4 linked regions of the Homo sapiens genome follow. The protein of the gene in region 1 interacts with the protein of each later gene in a biochemical or structural test. Each region holds a gene or a part of one and is shown in the gene's direction. Other genes may lie near its edges.

Evidence for each region.
Region 2: the proteins of MTMR1 (region 1) and HTRA4 interact in a test that uses a peptide from one of them, tested with the Homo sapiens proteins (one large-scale study listed by IntAct).
Region 3: the proteins of MTMR1 (region 1) and FRMPD2 interact in a test that uses a peptide from one of them, tested with the Homo sapiens proteins (one large-scale study listed by IntAct).
Region 4: the proteins of MTMR1 (region 1) and CASK interact in a test that uses a peptide from one of them, tested with the Homo sapiens proteins (one large-scale study listed by IntAct).

Annotation. Positions count from the first base shown.
Region 1 is NC_000023.11:150,698,829-150,704,054, forward strand, and holds part of MTMR1 (phosphatidylinositol-3-phosphate phosphatase MTMR1), read left to right. Parts: intron 1-366; coding exon 367-472; intron 473-5,226. UniProt on the Homo sapiens protein: Lipid phosphatase that specifically dephosphorylates the D-3 position of phosphatidylinositol 3-phosphate, generating phosphatidylinositol. Could also dephosphorylate phosphatidylinositol 3,5-bisphosphate to produce phosphatidylinositol 5-phosphate.
Region 2 is NC_000008.11:38,983,381-38,987,574, forward strand, and holds part of HTRA4 (serine protease HTRA4 precursor), read left to right. Parts: intron 1-4,194. UniProt on the Homo sapiens protein: Serine protease.
Region 3 is NC_000010.11:48,235,818-48,241,043, reverse strand, and holds part of FRMPD2 (FERM and PDZ domain-containing protein 2), read left to right. Parts: intron 1-551; coding exon 552-684; intron 685-1,351; coding exon 1,352-1,439; intron 1,440-2,920; coding exon 2,921-3,053; intron 3,054-4,490; coding exon 4,491-4,562; intron 4,563-5,226.
Region 4 is NC_000023.11:41,527,676-41,532,901, reverse strand, and holds part of CASK (peripheral plasma membrane protein CASK), read left to right. Parts: intron 1-1,692; coding exon 1,693-1,895; intron 1,896-5,226. UniProt on the Homo sapiens protein: Multidomain scaffolding Mg(2+)-independent protein kinase that catalyzes the phosphotransfer from ATP to proteins such as NRXN1, and plays a role in synaptic transmembrane protein anchoring and ion channel trafficking.

The DNA of each region.
Region 1 (5,226 bases):
CACTGCACTCCAGCCTGGGTGACAGAGTGAGACCCCATCTCACAAAAAAAAAAAGAAGTATTTCTTCCATATAATTTTAATAGAGTAAAATTCCATTAAATGGTAGAGAATAGTAAGCTTAACTAACACCTAGAATCTTCAACTTTGTTTGAGAAAATTGGGTGATTCATTTAAAATTAACCTGGAATCTAATCTTATTTCCTAGTTGTCAGTCGCTATTTCAGTTCTTACATAAAATGTGAAGGTAACCAAAGAGTCTAGTTAGTTCATCTAAAAAAAGAAGTGTTATCATATTCCTATTCAGTGCTAATTTTTTCACTGAGATCCTATGATATAACGTTTTGTAATCCATGCTATTTTTTTTAGTCCCACAGGATCACATGTTGAATGGTGTAAACAGCTTATAGCTGCTACAATTTCTAGTCAGATTTCAGGTTCAGTGACATCAGAAAATGTGTCCAGAGATTACAAGGTAAGCAACATTGAGTGTTTAATTCATTTTCAGTATGCTAAGTAGCCAAGAAGCTTTGCAGTTTTAATTCAAGTGAGCTGTTGGCCTTTTGATGCAACATGGCCATTTGCTCGAGAATAAGGATGAAAGGTTCTCTGTTGTTAGATCTGAAATGTAGAAGAGAAATTTTACCAGTATCCAGTACATGTAGTCATAGTTTTGTAATTGAAAGGAGAAGCTGTCTTTAGATGACAATGATTCTTTTAAAAATCAAGTTCCATTTTATAATAATAAATGCATATAGCTTCTTTGTTAGTATTGTGAGTTTCAGGAAATATCTTGATGTACAATACTTCCCTAACTTCACAATTTTTTAATTTATGTATTATCTGTGAGTATTCAGCATTAACATGTGATACTAGAATGTATAAAAACCCTTCCAGAATCTCAAAAGAGTATTGTATGGGCAGCCTCATTTTTCAGTCCTTACTGAAGTGAAAATCTCTTTTTGTTCATTTTAAAAGTTAGATTCCCTGCTTATTCTAAATTTAAGTGATAAGCTCCTTGTCAGCAGAGACTAGGGCAGTTTTACCACTGGCTTCCCAGGCACAATCCTGGAGCATAACAGTTGCTCAATAAATATTGAATCAATTAACAAATCAAAAAAATCGCTTGTTCCATCTTTGTTAAGGCTAAAGACTAACTTTGTTTTAATGTCAATAAACTATTAATAGGTATATTAAATGAAATCACATTTATATTTCAGTACTGATGTTTGCCTAAGTTGAGGTTTCTGTTTATTAGTGGTCATTTTTCCTGCTAGTAAGAGATGATTGATTTTTCACAAGTGTGTGTAAAATGCATTTGGTATCCCAGACTACCATTAGTTAATAGTCTCTCAATATCATGGTCCTTGCCAGACATCAAATCTTACAAATATCAAGAATTACAGTAAAGATCCTAATTAATTCTTAATAGGTACTCCTTGTTTAGGAGCTTTATCTTCAGTTCCTCTTTAGAGCTCATAGGGTAATAACAAGTGCAGAAACAGGCTCAGGAGGCCAATTAATTGAGATTTGGCTATGGTGCTGTCTCTTGCCTCATCCAAACTGGCAGATGCTGTTGATTATGCCTACCAAAGGAAGGCATAGCTGTGGATTAGCAGAAATTGGATAATCTGCCCAGCTAGAAGAGTGACAGTGTATTTCTTAATCATTTTTCCTGCTATGTGGTGTTCATGTTTGCCCATAAAAGAGCAGCTGGGGCTCCTGGACCTTAAAACCTGGTCGGGCAAACACACTGTCTCCAGGTGGGAGAAGCATTTGCTGCATCACTGATGCGTGAATGGCTGGTCACTGAGCAGCTGCGGATCGCATCAGTTCCAGTTGCCCTATTGCCTGCACCTTAGCTGAGAAACTGCCCGCTGAGTAGAGAGACTTAAGAACCCATTTTAGCAGAGAATAGCTCTCACACTTCGGGGTGATTTTCTTTATGGACAATTATGAGTTAACTGTAATGTTTTCATTAAGGTTGAATAGTTGTTAGTGTTGTGTGTGTCCTATAAAAGATTGAATGTCGACTGTGTGCATAGCTTTCTAACATTGCATGAATAGATCAGACTGAATCTGTACTTTAACATGAAGCAACTAAGTTTTTTCAATCTCAGTCTATTTACAAATTTTGTGTAGCTGAATTAGCTCATGTTGGAATGGTTGAACAGATGGTATTCAGAAAAAATAAGGCTTTCTTTCTTTTGGAAATTAAATTTTAAGTTCCTACATCAGATCATAGCTAAAGTCTTTGATGAATTATTGTAAGGGGGCATGTTTTATAATTGTCTTTGTTATATTTGCCCTGCAGCCAAATCTGAAAAGTTGGTGTTAAATTTATAACTCAGGGGTTGTTACACTTTCTTCAAGGAGAGTTTTTTTTTTTACATAATAAATACATAAAATATTTCTAAACCACAAGGATAATTGTACATGTTCCCTATAAAGTAGTTCTTAAAATCAGGGTAACCAAAATGGGCCTTTGGGACCCCTCTGGCATGGGAGCTATTGCATGGGGTTGACCCTGAAGAGCCAGATAAAGTTCCTTGAGGATTTAAGTTGCAGTCATCAGCTGATATTTGAAATTATCTGTTGTGTAAATGTCTTATTTGAAATACACACTTAATTTGGGGGCTAATTTATTATAGATTAAACTCAACATCAGTAATTAAATGGGAGCAGATGTTTATGTGGAGCAGAATGCTTGGCATCTTATTTGAAATGCTGATTGTCTTCTGAGTTGTAACAGGCTGTCGAGAATGGTTCTATGTCATCATCATCATCATCATCATCAACCCTCTAACACATACAGGCTCTGGGGTTTTGTAATGCTTTTTGACATGTCATCCATTTAAGCCTTAAAACAACCTAGTGAATCTGGGTGTGGTGGTCTGTAGTCTCAGCTACTTGGAAGGCTAAGATGGGAGGATCACTTGAGTCCAGGAGTTCAAGGCTGCAGTGTGCTGTGGTCACACTTGTGAAAAGCCAATGCACTCTAGCCTAGACAACATAGAGAGATCTTGCTTCTTTAAAAAAGTCCATTGAGGTAGCTATTACTACAATCATCATTTAATGGATGAGGAAACCGAGGCCTAGAGAGATGAAATGACTTGCTTAGGGTCATACAGTTAGACTTGGGATTTGAACTCAAGTCATCCTATTGAAAAGCTAGAGTGATTTTAAGATTTTGTCCCACCCCCATTCCCATCCACTGCTTTTCGATCTTTTTTTTTCTTCTTTTTCTTCTTCTTCTTTCTTTCTTTTTTTTTTTTTTATAGAGATGGGGTCTTACTACGTTTCCCAGGCTGGTCTTGAACTCCTGGGCTCGAGCGATCCTCCCATCTCGGCCTCCCAAAATGCTGGGATTAGAGGTGTGAGCCACCATACCCAGCCTCATCCACTGTTTTTCAAAATGTGACCCTTGGGTCTTCCCAAGACAGCATTCTCTGGAGCACCTGTAAAAATGCAGCTTCCCGGGCTCCATCCCAGATTTACTGAATCAGAGTGTCTGAGGGAGGGAAACAAGTGTCTCATATATTTCTTATGCATGATAAAATCTGAAAACCTAGGCTTCCTGAGTTTCTGTCTGTTGAAATTGGTGATGGGACCCTGCATTTCTGGTATATTACTAAGAATCTGAATAATTAGCAACTCAGATATTGGAGAATAATTATTTTATTATTTACTCATATCATAAATTGTCAGTCAGCCCAGGGTCAGCTCATCTAAAGTACAGTAAGAATATCGCTGGTATCACGTGACATGAGTTTAGATGGTATGTCCATGGACGTATTTTAGTAGCTATGTAATTATTTTCTTGTGTATTAGAAAAATCAGCACATCAGGCTTGTGATTTAGTAGATGTTATGGCTTAGAGCAGGCAAAGTATTAAAAAGGAATGGATTTTAAATCAATATAAAGATAAATACAAAATTAGTATGGGCAGTTGGCAGATACAGCAAGCCAAACTTGTTGAGGTGGTATGTGAAATGGCAAGTTTGGCAAGCATTGTCCCAGCTGAAAGAGTAGATAGCTATTATACTGAATTGTGTGGCAGCTAAATTAATAAATGCCTGATTTAATACCGAGTCATCCTGAAGATTGGCCTGTTAATTAAGACTATTACACAAAATGTAATAAAATATTTGTTTTGCTTGTCCCCCCTCCACTACCAACTCAATTGCTTTCATTTTTACTAGGCTAACAAATGGTAAAAAATTTCTCTTGAATTTGCCAGAAATTTTAAGAACAAAATTTGAATGTAATCTTCTGTAGATTAGATGAAATAATACAGTTACAAATGGAAACATTTTTAGGAACTATTAGTAGAAGTGACATCATTGATCACAGCTTCCATTGTTTGGAAAGTAGGACTAGGTTATGAAAAGAGAACATGATGGAGTAGTACAAACAATATTGGTTAGCTTGTGACCTTGTATAGTCTCTGAGGCTCAGTTTCCTTTTCTGGAAGGATAAAGGGGCTTGGATTAGATTATTCACCTCTAAATGCCTTTCTTGCTAGAACATTATTCAATTGTGTTCAAAAGAATTTGATCTGGGCCAGCTTTATGAAAATTAGGACACTATAGTTTTAATGTGATCATCTTCCTTCCTCTTGCTTCATCATTATCATCAGCTCTTCTCTGTTCTCCTTCCCTCACCCACACACACACAGTAGCTATATCTCTTCTCTAAACATTCTGAAGAAAAATGAGAAAATGGAGATGGCCTTATACTAAGTTTAATCATTGGATGGGATAGTACAGTAATTACATTTGGAGGGAAGTCGAAGGCAGAGTATAGGAAAGACTTCATTATGCTTGAGCTGGGTCTTGGTTAACATTTCTTAAATTGGGCCCTAGTCTATGAAAAGGGAAGCTTTAGCATGAACCTTCAAAATCTACTTCTGTAATCTATAGCCTGGCCTTGTGACTTATAAATCAGAGCTTGCAAACTCAGATGCCTTCATGGAACAGTTCACAAATCTAGGCAGACATGGAAGAGTGCTGTAGAGAACTGGAGAGTACAGAATGCCCACCTAACAGCAATTAAATTTTTTTAAAAACCATAGGCCTCCAGTTTTGTAACCACTGTAATAGATAGAAGAGTGCTATCCTATCATGGTTTTTGTGGGAAATAATTATTTCTTAAAAATGTTAAGATTTAGACTTCTGTTTCTGGAAAAAATGGAGCAAATGTATTTTCTCTTATTCTTTGTACTAAGTA
Region 2 (4,194 bases), on another chromosome or scaffold:
ACAAAAATTAGTGGGTGCGCCTGTAATTGCAGTTACTTGGGAGGCTGAGGCAGGAGAATCGCTTGAACATGGGAGGCAGAGGTTGCAGTGAGCTGAGATCACGCCACTGTACTCCAGTCTGGGCGACAGAGCAAGACTCCACCTCAAAAAAAAAAATATTATCATTATATAGTAGTATATTGGGGGGGTGTGTTATTTCAAGTGGATTTCAAAGACATAGGAAACAGAGTGTAAAATAACTATTTTAAAAATATCACGTTAAATGATAATATTTGGATATATTGTATTAAATAAGATATATTATTAAATTAAATTCATCTATTTAAAAATTTTTAAAAATGTGGCTACAAGAAAATTTAAAATTATGTATGTGGCTTGCATTATTGTCTACAGGACAGTGCTGATTCAGACTTGGGTACTTATAAAGGCTTTTTTTGTATTTTGGGAGGGAGGTGGTTCTCTATAGTCTAAGAAGAGCTCATGTTATGAGTTAATAGCATAAGTTTAAATTAATTTGGCTAGGAATTCCCAAATCTACCCTTTCAACATTAATAGTTATTACTTAATAACTATTAAGTGATTAACACCTATTAGGTATTAGTAACTATTAATTATTCATTAATAGTTTTTTTTTCTTTTGAGATGGAGTCTCACTCGTTGCCCAGGCTGCAGTGCAGTGGTGCAATCTTGGCTCACTGCAACCTCCACCTCTCAGGTTCAAGCAATTCTCCTGCCTCAGCCTCCCGAGTAGCTGGGATTACAGGCACCCGCCACCACGCTTGGTTAATTGTTGTATTTTTAGTAGAGACAGGGTTTCACCATGTTGGCCAGGCTGGTCTCGAACTCCTGACCTCAAGTGATCCACCCACCTCGGCCTCCCACAGTACTGGGATTACAGGCATGAGCCACCACGCCTGGCCATATTTTAGGTATTTTAAAACACATTTTTCGGCTGGGCATGTTGGCTCAGCCCTGTAATCCTAGCACTTTGGGAGGCTGAGGTGGGAGGATTGCTTGAGCCTGAGAGTTCGAGACCAGCCTGGGGAACACGGTGAAACCCTGTCTCTACAAAAAATAAAAATTAGGCCAGGTGCCGTGACTCACGCCTGTAATCCCAGTACTTTGGGAGGCCAAAGTGGGCAGATCACTTGAGGTCAGGATTTTGAGACCAGCCTGGCAAACTTGGTGAAACACCATCCCTACTTAAAAAATATAAAAATTAGCTGGGTGTGGTGTCGCATGCCTGTAATCCCAGCTACTTGGGAGGCTGAGGTCAGAGAATCGCTTGAACCTGGGCAGCAGAGGTTGCAGTGAGCTGGGATCACGCCCCTGTACTCCAGCCTGGGCAAGAAAGCGAGACCCCATTTAAAAAAACAAAAAACAAAAAACAAAAATTAGCCAGGTGTGGTGGTTTGCACCTGTGGTCCCAGTTACTTGGGGAGGTCGAGATGGGAGGATCACCTGAGTCTGGGCTGTAATGAGCTGTGCTCATGCCACTGCACTCCAGCCTGTGCAACAGAGTGAGACCCTGTCTCAAACAAACAAACAAGCAAAAAAAAACTACACCAAAACCTCACAAAACCTACATTTTTCTTTGAACTCTGAATGACAATATCAGAGGCCAGCGCTAAGACCTGTGTAATAAAGCAAAGGCTAGGACAGCTTCCAAAAGAAGGTTCTCCAGCTGATTTCACTGTTGTTTCAAAACATTTAATACTAAGTACTGAGAGAGGTGGCTTGTCCTACAAATATCATTCTCCTGGGCTTTTCTGTTGTACTTCTTTTTTTTTTTTTTTTTTGAGACGGAGTCTCGCTCTGTCACCAGGCTGGAGTGCAGTGATGCGATCTCGGCTCACTGCAACCTCTGCCTCCTGGGTTCAAGTGATTCTCCTGCCTCAGCCTCCCGAGGAGCTGGCACTACAGGCGTGTGCCACCACGCGCAGCTAATTTTTGTATTTTTAGTAGAGATGGGTTTTCACCATGTTGGCCAGGATGGTATCCATCTCTTGACCTTGTGATCCGCCTGCCTCGGGCTCCCAAAGTGCTGGGATTACAGGCGTGAGCCACCGCCCGCGGTCTGTACTTCTTTATTATCCCTTTCTCATTGTTTTTATTTTTCAAGAGCTCAGTAATCTGTTTAGATTATGGCACCACTTTCACTGGGGCTTTCCCCCTAGTGAAATCAGAGGGCACTGTTCAGCACAGCAGTCATAGGTCTCATGTTACTAAATTTGGCTTGTCCCTGGTTTCTCTGGACTTTTCTCATTCCTGCTCTGCTCCACTCTTCCCCCATTTCCTTAAGTTCTGGTTCAAGACCAAAGCTATTTCTTTCGGCTAAGTCCTTGCTACTCAGAATGTGGTCTGTAGACCAGCGTCATTAGCTCAGCTGGGGCTTGTTGGAAAGGCAGAATCCCAGGTCCCACCTTTGATCCACTGAATCGGAATCTGTGTGTTTAACAAGATCCCCAGGTGATTCATGTGTATGTTAAAATGTGAAAATTAGTGCTGGAAGTTGCTGATAAACAGAAATCAGGACTGGGCATGGTGGCTCATGCCATGATGTGGGAGGATCATTTGAAACCAGGAGTTTGAGACCAGCCTGAGCAACATAGTTTCTAAAGACAAATAAATAAAATAAACAAAATCAGCTGGGTGTGGTGGCAGGTGCCTGTAGGGAGGCTGAGGCAGGAGGATCATGTGAGCCCAGGAGTTTGAGGCTGCAGTGAGCCATGACTGCACCACTGTATTCCAGCCTGGGTAAGAGAGTGAGAACCTGTCTCAAACAAATCTATTCTTTCTGGCTTTCACTGACTTATACCTAATATAATGATAATTACACCACTATCTGGCACTTACAAAACTTTTACTATATCTCAGGCACTATTTGAAGTGTTTTATTTTTATTATTATTATTTTTTTGAGACTGAGTTTCGCTCTTGTTGCCCCAGCTGGAATGCAATGGCATGATCTCAGCTCACTGCAACCTCCGCCTCCTGGGTTCAAGCGATTCTTCTGCCTCAGTCTCCCAAGTAGCTGGGATTACACACCTAGCTAATTATTGTACTTTTAATAGAGACGAGGTTTCACTATGTTGGGCAGGCTGGTCTCGAACTCCTGACCTCAGGTGATCCACACGCCTGTGGCTCCCAAAGTGCTGGGATTACAGTGTGAGCCACTGCTCCTGGCCTATTTGAAGTGTTTTATACACCTGTTTGTGCTCCCAACATTTTATGATATAGGTATTATTTTATAGAGGAAGCAGCTGTGGTACAAAGAGGTTCATTAACTTGTAGAACGCAGTAAATCAGAGAGCAGAGAGCAGGGATGTGGGCCCTGGCTGAACCCTTCTATTATCCTGCTTTGGTGGCTGCTTTTCTGTTTCTGACAGGCAGAGTGATTTAGTGGCAAGAAGATGGGTTCCCAAGTCTGAAAGACCCAGGATGAAATCCCTCTCACAAGTTGCATGACACAGAAAAAGGTCATTTGTCCTGTCTGAGCCATAGTTCCTCATATTTGGTGCATAGGTTATTAGTAATAATTTGCAGGTTTCTTTTTCTCTTTTCTGACTCACAGGACTAGTATGAATTAAGTTCTCTATAAGTTCTTTCTTTGTACTCACTGGTCCTAAGTCATCCTCCTAAACTGTCTTTGTTCTAAGGTTATTTCTTGATTTTAGTTTTATACTTAAGCGTCTCTTCATATCCTCTTGCGTTAAGCTTCTTCTTTTTAAACTCCACATATCTTGATGATCAAACCACATTATCATTCTTCCTTGAGCTTCCCATTTCTATCAAGTGGTGTCTCCTGGAGTCATTTGCTGTTCCTTTTTCAGCCTATTTTCACCAAATCACTGGCATGGCTATTTCTGTATTGTAGTGTTTTGTATTTGGAGCTGGTTTTTGCTTCTAGAATATATACTCTATGTGAAGCAATTATGTTGAAGGCAATAAAGTCACAACTTTGGAGAAAAGGAGCCTAGAGCCAGAGCTGGAAATATTTAGACTCAGAAGGTTGGCGGGTTTTTGATTTAGTGGAAGCAGAATTCCTATAATGCAGCTCAGCATCCTTCCCAGCTCCATAAGCTGGGGCGGGGGGGTGGGGTGGGGTGGGAAAGACAGGCAAGTGAGTGGGCTGCCAGAATCAAACTGAGCCGAGTTTAAGTGTCTGGGAGAAAACATATTGCTTGGGCTTTTC
Region 3 (5,226 bases), on another chromosome or scaffold:
GATAGACAGTGTACTGACCTGCAACATTTCCGTCAGGGATCTGCAAGGTAGATGTCAGTCACGTATTCAACATTCATTGGGCACTGCATTAGGTGTGCTACGGTGGTGCATAAAGCACACAGAGATGTTGGGGGAGACAGACAAGCAGCACACTCATGGAACATGATGCAACAGAGCCAGGTGTGAGTGCAGTGATAAGGGAAGGTGATCAGACGGCAGAGGTAGAGAGGCTTAGAAGTAGAAAGCACACAGCTCTGGGTCTTGTGGGCACAGAGGAGCTTCTGGGGAGGCTGTAGCCATGGAGGGAATGCATGAGCAAAGGCACAGATGTGTGTGAGTGTGCAGGTCTGGAGTGGGGAGTGAAGTGCCTTCAGGGTGCATGCAGGGGGTGGGCACAGAGCACATTCTGGGTGCCAGAGAACACATCTTTAGGTCACCGTATAGGGCAGACAATTCCACATTGATTCAGTCTGACAGCCAGTTTGCATGTATCTATAAAAACGCCCCCTCCTTATCTTGGGATGTGGATGTGTGATGCACTTGACCCCCAGGTGGAGAAAAGAGTTGTGGAGGAAAGCTCCTCTGTGCAGCAGAACAGAAGCTACCTGCTCAGGAAGAGGCTGCGTGGGACAAGCAGCGAGAGCCCAGCGGCACAGGCCCCGGAGTGTCTGCATCCTTGCAGAGGTGGGTACGTGCCCTAAGCAGTCCCTGCGTGGGCTGATGGTACCCATTCTATTTTTTCCTGCCCTGTATGGGCTACACATCCACATTGTGATGGCAGAGAAAGCCTATGTAAGTGCCACTCTTTCAGGAAGCCCCTGAAGAGAAGGGGCTGAGCTTAGGACTCACCTGTGTTCCCAGGAAAGTCTTATTTGGGGACACAACACAGTTATTTATATCAAATGAAAACTTTAAAAATGAGTTCTAACTGTCCAAGTTGAGAAAATCCAAATTGAAACAAACAACAAGAAAAGAAAAACTTGATTTTTTTTTCAGTTATTGTTCTGGGTGTGTTAAAAGAGTGGTTTTTGGAATAATCTTCAAATCTACTGTTCTCTACTTTTCAACTAAATCTGAGCTTTTTTTAAAAAAATTAATGTTATTGTTTGTTGTCTCTAAAACAAAGTGCACTTTGCCATTAGGCTTTATCTTCCCTTGTAACCCTCCCTCCAACCCTCTGTAACTGTCATTTCTGTTTTCTACATGAGGAAACAGATTCAGAGAGGCTAAGGAATTTCACCAAGGTCACACAGCTAGTAAGTCATGATGCCATTCATGCTCTGAGATGCCTGATTTAAGAAAGCCGTGATCTTGGCTTCTGCCCATACCCTCTACCATGCTGCTTGATTAGTTTCAGAAAGAAGCACGGAGACCCAGAGCTCACCAGAGCCCCATTGGAGCACCTTGACACACAGTCACTGCAGCCTCCTTGTTAACCGGTAAGCAGCAAGGCCTAAAGGGTGCTGTGAACTTGATGTGAGACATAGGTGTGGGGGCTATGGTACCTTATTTCTTTACTGATTATTAGTAAGAAGCCTCTTGCTCCTCCAGAAAATGCCAATGCTATTCCATTAACAGATGAAGAAGCCACATTTAAGCAGATCCGAAGCCAAGATAATGAGGGGCCTGGTGGCAGCTGTGCTGTCAGGGCATCCTGTTTCCTCTGGGAACCATACTCAGGCCGAGTGGCGGAGCAACAACATGCCTCAATATTGTTGCCATTATCCATTGCCATACCATGCTGCATAACAAGCAACCACAAAACACAGTGGCTAAAAGCAACAATTATGAATTTAGCTCATGATTCTGTGAGTTGGTCATTTAGGCTGTGCTCAGCTGGGAGGTCTTCTAGACTCTGCTGAAAGCCTTCCTGCCTTTTTGACTGTCTTCGGCTCGGCTATCCAGCTTCTCCTGCGGGGTGAATGGCCATTGTCTGGGAAGCTCTGGCTCTCCTCCACCAGCAGGTCAGCCTAGGATTGTTCTCGTGACAATGGCAGAACTGACAGAGAGGAACTGAGAGAGAGAGAGAGAGACAGAGAGACAGAGAGAAAGAGGAGAGAGAGGAGAGAGGACGGCAAGGTGCATAAAGCCTTCAGAACTGGTCTTCCATCATTTCCACTTCATTCTGTTGGCCATATCAGGCCTAAAGGCCAGCCCCATTTCAAGGAGTAAGAAATAGACTCCATCTCTTGATGGCAGGAGGCTGCAAAGTCGGATTGCAAAGGGTGCAGATCAGGGAGAAGAACTGTGGACATTTTTGCAATTGTCTAACTTAGGATGCTTGAATCAGATCAAAACCTAGATGGGCTCATATCTTCCTGGACCTGGAACGGTGTTTATTTTGAAGTTTGGGTGATTTATTTATTCACATGGTGACCTGTTGAGGGCTGTAACAGTGTCTTGTCATAGTTGATGTCAAATCCACAGCTGACGCCCTGATTGGATATCGTAGAGTTTATCTTGCAATACTTTTTCCTGCCATTTAAAACTTTATTTTCCCAATGAAAACAATTTTTACCCCCTGATTCCTTAAACAATATATTTTATTGTCAAAATATTTTGAACAACATATCAAATTCTAAAGAAGCCAGAACTGCTGCAGTCCCATGACCTGCTGGGTGGTTGCTCTAGACCTGGGGTCCTGGCACCACAAACAGAGAGGTAAAGCCATGGGGTGGAGAAGTCGACTGTGCCTTGTACCTCCAACCCCACCCCACCCCAGTGGCTGTGCAGCCTGGCTTCTCCAGGCCTCAGCTTCCCCCACTTGAAAAATGGATATAACTCCCCCATAGGTGGGGGAGAAGGTGACATGCATCAGTGGGTGCACCCTGCCCAACTGAGCCCCTGTGCGGGTGGTCTTTCATGCCATGGAAGCCCTTGCCATTGCTAAGTGCTTCACCCCTTCTCAACCCCTGGCCAGCGCTCTTCCAGGAGCAGATCCCCAGGACCAGCAGGCGGGCCGGAGGCTCAGCTCTGGATCTGTGCACTCGGCAGCAGACAGCTCATGGCCAACAACTCCTTCTCAGAGGGGTTTTCTGCAAAGAAGGAGCAAGGTAAGCAAAATAAGGCTGAAGGACACTCCTCAAGGAGGCTTGAGCAGGGAGCTGTGGGTGGCTGGCACGGTGGCTGAAAATGGGCAGGGTCTTCTAGGGGACAACTTCCCTGGGCTGAGGTTTATAGGATTGGACTAACATAAACCTGAAATTTGCAACTTAGGGCATAGGCATTCACTGAGTAGCCTCACTGGGGAAGGCTCTATGGGGGACGCTGTATAAGATGTAGGGTTAAAGATGCTGGGTCCCACCCTAGAGGAAGCCACCGGTGCGCAGGGTGGTGGCAGAGCGTGCTACATGATTCGAGAACTGACAAGGCAGAATGTGTTTGGAAGGGGCCTTCTGCACAGGTGAAAGGTGGGAGCATAGATCCAGGGCCGCAGGGAGGGCTTCTATAGGGAGGAGAGAGTTATCCTTCCAGCTGGCTAACCCTAAGAGGGTAATAGGGTTAGGCGGAATGTGCCTGTCTGTCTGTCAAAGTTAGTTAAGGTCCCTTGACTGAGCTGAGCTCCAAATAGCCTCAGGATGTCCCTCTTCCTGTTTGGCCTATGGTTCCCATACGCTGGCCTGGCCCGCACTGTCCTCCTTGGCCCTTCTCTGGCCTCCATGAACTTGGTGGAGGGCGTGAAGAGGGCTTCTGAGAGGCTTTGTCCACCTCCTTTGGCTTTTCTTCCTGATCACTCACTAGAGATACTTCTATTGGGAACTCTTGCAGGACACAAGTCACTTCTGGGCTGGAATTTTGGCCTCTTGGGACAAGAGTCCTGCTAGGTACCCTTGGGGGCACTATAGAAGCCCTACCCAACCCTATCTCTTGCTGGTTATATGACTCAGGTGAGCTTCTTAAGCTTTTTTTTTTTTTTTTAAAGGTGAGGAGCCTCAACTTCCTCACCTGTAAAATGGGTTGAGAATATGCACCCCACAGGGGGATAGCTGGGTCTAGCTAGTGATGGGTATTGCAGTGTTTTCTGGGTCAAGTGTAATACAAACACACTGAGAACAAGAGGTGCCCACTAAGCTATTGATTCAACATCTAGAGCTAGAAAACATTTCAGCTCATCTAAATCTAAAAGTATTTTTGTTTTTTCAAGTATTTTTATTGCATTTATATTTATATTATACATTTTATACTTTTGATACATACAAAAGATGGAGTTCTGTGTAAATTATGAAACTTATAATTCACCCCGAACACCCCTGTACCCAACTTAAGAGCCAGAATGTTGCTGATACCCTATACCCACCTGTAAGACTTCTGCTCCAAGATGTACCATTCAGCTGGGGCCTCAGCCCAGGTCAGCCCCATCTTGGCCTGTTTTCTGCTGGCTCTGGGGAATGTATGCTGGTGGGGGCTGCAGAGGTGCATCATGGGGGAAGCCCAGACCCAAAGCCTGGAATCTGTTGTCTTCTCTACCATATGTGACTGTTTTCCTCCAGTTTTCCAGGCCAGAGTTCATCCTGTTGGCTGGAGAGGCCCCGATGACACTACATCTGCCGGGATCGGTTGTGGTAACTACTGGGCTAGACTGGGCAGGGATGGAGGGTGGCGAGGGAAGTGGGCAGTTGCGGGAGGCCAATTGTGTCTGAATGGGGTCTCACATGGGAACACCCCAGTGGCATTCAGTTTCCCCCAGACCTCTGCCAGAACCATCACTGCCTCCCACTGCTGCTGTTTTCCCTTCAGCCTGTTAAAGGGGCCCCACGTGACTTCCAGCTGAGTCCTGCTGGCCCTCCCAGCCTCAGCTAGGGAATGCTGTGAAACATCTACCAGGTGCCAGGCACTATTCTAGGCCCCCATCTATGCTGCGAATGAAACAAAGTCCTTTTCATGTGGAGATTACATTCTAGAAGGAGGCGGCAAAGACAGACAAAGACATAAATATAAAAGAATGCCAGGTAGTGATTTGTGCAAAAAAAAAAAACAAAAAACAAAAACAAAAAAACAACGAAGAAGGGAGGAGGATGGAGCATGGCAGGTGGTAGGAGGGAGAGTGTGCTCTTTTAGATAGGAAAGTGGCTCTGGGGAGGCATCTTGTGAACAAAGACTGGGTGAAGACAAGGAGTGAGCCTTGTGGGCTTTTCAGGAAGGGCAAATGCTGTGTGGGCTGTCCCTTCCCTGCCCCAGAGCCTGAGCACGTCCCCTGCAGAGCCCCATGTGTGGCTGGTCTCACCC
Region 4 (5,226 bases), about 110 Mb from region 1:
GGAGCTGGAAGTTGCAGTGAGCTGAGATCTTGCTACTGCACTCCAGCCTGGGCAACAGAGTGAGACCCTGTCTCAATAAATAAATAAATAGTAACGCCGGTTCTTCAGCTTTTGATGTGCCTAGAGAAAGGGCTTCTCTTAAAATGTCCACATTTTGATGACCACGAGCACTTTATGTTCTAACAAACAGGCTAGCAGGAAAGGGGGATTCCCCATTAGTTTAGGCTCATGTATACAGAAGAGAGTAGCATAAATTTGTTCTTTCTCAAAGAAAGAAGGAAGCAAAGAAATTGAGAGAGAGAGGGAAAAAAAGGGAAGGAAGGGAGAAAAGAAAGGGGGGTAGGGAGAGAGAATATTAAAACCAGTGTTCCTGGCTCATCTAGAAAAACATTTCCTAAAGTGTGTTTTGCAGGATACTGGTCCTATTAGTATCCACAGAACTAGAGCTTATTGGCATATACTTCAGTTACACTCACTTAGGTGAGGGGTGGGCAAGCCTTTTCTGTAAAGGACCAGATAGTACACATTTGAGGCTTTAAGGCCATACAGTCTATCACAAGCACTTAGCTCTGCTGTTGTCTCATGAAAACAACCATAGGCAATATGTAAACAAAAGCACATGGCTGTGTTCCAGTAAAACTTTGTTTACAAAAACAGACAGTAGGTGGCCAGGTGCAGTGGCTCACACCTGTAATCCCAGCACTTTGGGAGACTGAGGCGGGCAGATCACCTGAGGTCAGGAGTTTGAGACCAGTCTGGCCAACATGGTGAAACCCCGTCTCTGTTGGAAATACAAAAAATAGCTGGGCATGGTGGTACACGCCTATAATCCCAGCTGCTCAGGAGGCTGAGGGCACAAGAATCTCTTGAACCCAGGAGGTGGAAGTTGCAGTGAGCTGAGATCGCACCACTGCACTCCAGCCTGGGCTACAGAGTGGGACTCTGTCTCCAAAATAAAAAAATAAAAATAAAAAAAGACAGTAGACCATGTTTGGCCCATAAGCCAGTTTGTCACCTCCTGATTTAGGTCTTCCATAATAATTATGGGTATGTCTGGCCACAGTCATTGTGTTTTCAGTGTAACGTGTCTTTTGCTGTATCCTAACATTCTCCTTTTGCAAGATGTTATAGAACATCACTTTTCAATAGAACTTTCTGTGACAATGACAGTACTTGATGTCTGTGCAGTCCAGTACAGTGGCCACTAACCATACGTGGTTATTGAATCCTTGAAATGCCACTAGTGAGACTGAGAAACTAAAATTTGAATTTTATTTAATTTTGGCTTATTTAAATTTAACCATATGCAGTTTTCCATTTTTTTATTCTCCTTTTTTCCTTCTACACAAGACCCAACTGCATTAAGGCATACAGTGAGTTATATTAATCTTGGGTCATTTCACGTCTTCCTCCTGTGGTGGTTCATGAAGGGATAAAATACATCTCACCTGAACACTGAAAGTTTCACCAAACCAGACAATTCACTGGCTACTATGGTGTGATGCACACAGATAAATATGGTTTCTAGAATTTAGTTCTGCAAAGCCACTGGGGGTGAGAACAGGGGATATGAGATATACGCTAAAGAATCCACAGCTTTTAGGAAGAGACTGGGTTTGAGTAAATCTGTTGGGAGTGTAGTAAGCTCATCAGCTCAGCCTTTTAAACCTCTTGTGCCATGCGACTTTGCAGATACAACCAGACCTCCAAAGAAAGACGAAGAAAATGGAAAGAATTATTACTTTGTATCTCATGACCAAATGATGCAAGACATCTCTAATAACGAGTACTTGGAGTACGGCAGCCACGAGGATGCGATGTATGGGACAAAACTGGAGACCATCCGGAAGATCCACGAGCAGGGGCTGATTGCAATACTGGACGTGGAGCCTCAGGTAATGCCCAGCCTCCCCGAATGTCTGACATCCTGCCTGCATGCCAATAAGCACAGATTCTGAAATCAAAAATGCCATCAGAAAGTCACAGGTCACATAATAATTTCATAAACCACAGAAAAGTATCAGTAATGGAGGCGTTGGGGGTTCACAGTCTAGAATGCCAGCTGACTAATCGTTGGACTCAGTGCACACACCATGTATTTAAGAAGCAGAGATTATTCTCTTAAGAGGTTTATTATATGCAGAAGCTCAGTAAGGTTCCTGATTGTGTCTACGCCTGCCAGAAATCCTACGATCATCTGACCTCAGGATGAGGCTCTGGCACTTTGTTATCACAACAGCCACCTTCCCTCTCTGGGTACAGCTCACGCTGGACCATCAGAGCCTCTACCAGCACATTATGTTAATCTCCAGTGAGAAACTGATCCTGGGGCCTGGGTCTGAAACACAGCACTAGCTTTATGAAAGCAAGCATGAGTGAGCCCAGATGTCAGAGACAGCAGGGATGGAAACCCATGGTGGCTCTCAGCCTCTGCCATTTCCTTACCTGAGCACAATGCCTGACCCTGAGCAAAAACTAGGAGAGAGATAAAGACTTGGAAGAGGACTCAAAAGAGAGCCAGACACAGAGATGATGAAATGGTTTCTAGATATGTCTTGCAGTAGGAATTATTAAACTTGAAAAAGAGAAAGCTGAAGGCTTTACATCAAAAATGCTGACAAGCTGTTTTTTCATCTCTGAGTACAAACCAAGTAGATATGGGAGGCAAAGTATAGTAGGAAGGATTTGGGAGTTGTAGACATCAAGGTGGGTTATAGGAGAGGCTTGTGGGTGCCATGTGACTCCTGGGTCTGCCATTTCTAGGACTGATCTGTACCAAATCTCCTTTAACCCTTAGAAATAGAACCAGTATGCTACCTGCTGAAATAGTAGACCAGCTTCCCTCAAGCAGGCTGTGTTTCATCAGGAGGCTTACCTGGCTATCTTAGGCAGGGCGAATCCCTGTTCAAGGGCCACTGTATGAGACTTGGTCCCCTAACCATCCCTAAAGCAAGGACAGAACCTATATAGCCAGAGTCTGTGTGACCTGGGACCTGACAGCTCAGTTTCTGGGCTCCAGGATCCTAATTCGTGGCCAGTGGGTTCACCCATTTCCGTTTACAACACCTGATGGGGTTCTTGAACTTGGAACTTTGGAAACCACAAAAGGATCTGTTCAAGGGGCTAGGGAGGAAAGCAGCAGTAGGGTGAACACTGCCGTTTACTTAACAATTAACTTGGACCTATATAGAACTAAATATATGATGTGTACCACAGATTGATTTTTGTTTAACTACTAATCCCTCCTTACTAGGGATTGGAAAAATCTTCTGGCCAGGGGTGGCTAGAGGCAAAGTCTCAATCCTGGTCCTGGTCTTCGACATCCTCTCCTTGGGTTCCACACTGGTCTTCACCTGAACGTCGTTTTCTGCTGGTAGTAATGTCTCTAGCAGTATGCTGGCTGCAGGGCTCCTCAGACTCCCTCTGCATTACCTAAGTCCACTTTCGAGGGCTTTCTGCCTTACCTGCCTCCGCTGCTGCCGCCGCCACCGCCACTGCTGCTGCTGCCGCTGCTGCTGCTGCTCCACCCATAGCGTCCAGCTCTCCCTTTCTCCTTGCCCTTGCACAGCCATGCATTGCTCTGCACTGCTGAGTGGGAGACACTTCTCTCAGCCTCCTCAGGACACCCACAGCAGTTACTTTTACCCATTGCACTTGGCCCCAAAGCACCTCCTCACCCCGGCTGGGCACTCTCCTCTGCTCCCCTGAGTGCTGGATGAGCTCACCTGCACTCTTCTCTCCTGCTTCCTGGGTCCCTGCCTCTCAGAACTGTGATCTCTCAGATCCACCTAGCCCTGAGGGCCGGCCATAGGCATCCTGGCTGCCTGAGTCTCTTTGGGCCAGCGGCCCTGGGGATAGGGATTGCCCAGGTCCTGCTCCTCCTGTTGGTCTGGTTGACTACACTGGTCCCAGGCCCTCCTGCGCAGGCCAGCCTCATGCCAGTCCTGGTCTCACAATGACCATTGCATACCACAGTACAGCTGAGAATGCCCGCAGTCTGCACCGACTGGGCTTCACTCTCGGGCTTCTCTGCCCTCAGCCCAGTCTCTCCTCAGCTGGACAAGGCCTTCATCCTGCCTTCAGGATACCCGTGACCATGAACAACTTGCTTTCAGGCAGAGCCTCACTGCTCCAGGGAGGCTCTCTCCTTAGGACATTTTTCTCCATCCCCCTTTCCCACTCCAGCTTCTTAGATGACCCCTCTACTGTATCTTACAGACAATTTAATCCAACAAACTTGTATTAAGCCCTTATTATATGTCAAGCACAGGGTCAGGAGCTAAGAATACAATTCAGAAGACAAGATGGTGAGGATGAAATTCCTTCCTCATTGTACATCCAAAACTGTCCATAACAGAAGGGCCTTGTGGCATTTTTTAGAATCCTCTCACTTCTGCCAAACTACATGTGGACCATAGGAAAACCACCTAACACATGTCCAGCTCTTTTAGTACAGGTCTAATACTTTATGCCATCTTATTTCAGACAACTGAGGCCCAATTGAGCACGTCTAATAATACTATATGATAAGATGTTGTGGTCCAACTTTAAAGCTAGAGGATGATGGTAAAGACATTAAACTAGAAAGAAATTAATAACCTAGCTTCTCATAAAATAGTAATAGATTATGTTCTTATAGTGCTGTATATTTTGCCAGGCGTTATGACTCCTTACCTAATCCTTGTAACCCTATGAGCTGGAGATCAGTATCTAGTTTTGTAGATGGAGAAACCAAGGCTTAACATAATTGTGACTCGATTAAGGCTTTACAGCCAATTGAAAGTGAGGTGTGAAGTTGAACTGTGTTGATTTTTAAATTTTTATTCTTTTACAGTAAATCCCCACTTCCTTTCACTGTACCACCCTAGAAGAGGTAACCCTGGGAATCCTTAAGATGGTTCACCTTATCCATAGTAGTACAATGTAAAGCCTCATTTTTTCTTAACATTCAGAAAAATCTGTAATTCAGTCAAACCTAAGAAAAGCTGTAGAATTTATTTCTCATGAAAATAAAGCTATGGCTCAGAAAATAATCTGTGCCCCTAAAGCTGAAACTGTAATAGCCCCAGTGTGTAATCAGAGCTTAATGTGATGGTTTTAGATTTTAACTTTATTCTGATGTATCCATTTGTAGCATGAAAAAGTTAATAGTAGCAGAATATTTGTAGTTTTGCTTTTGCCCACAGCGGAAGAGGTCATCATCAAGAGGCAGCATACAGTCTTGTT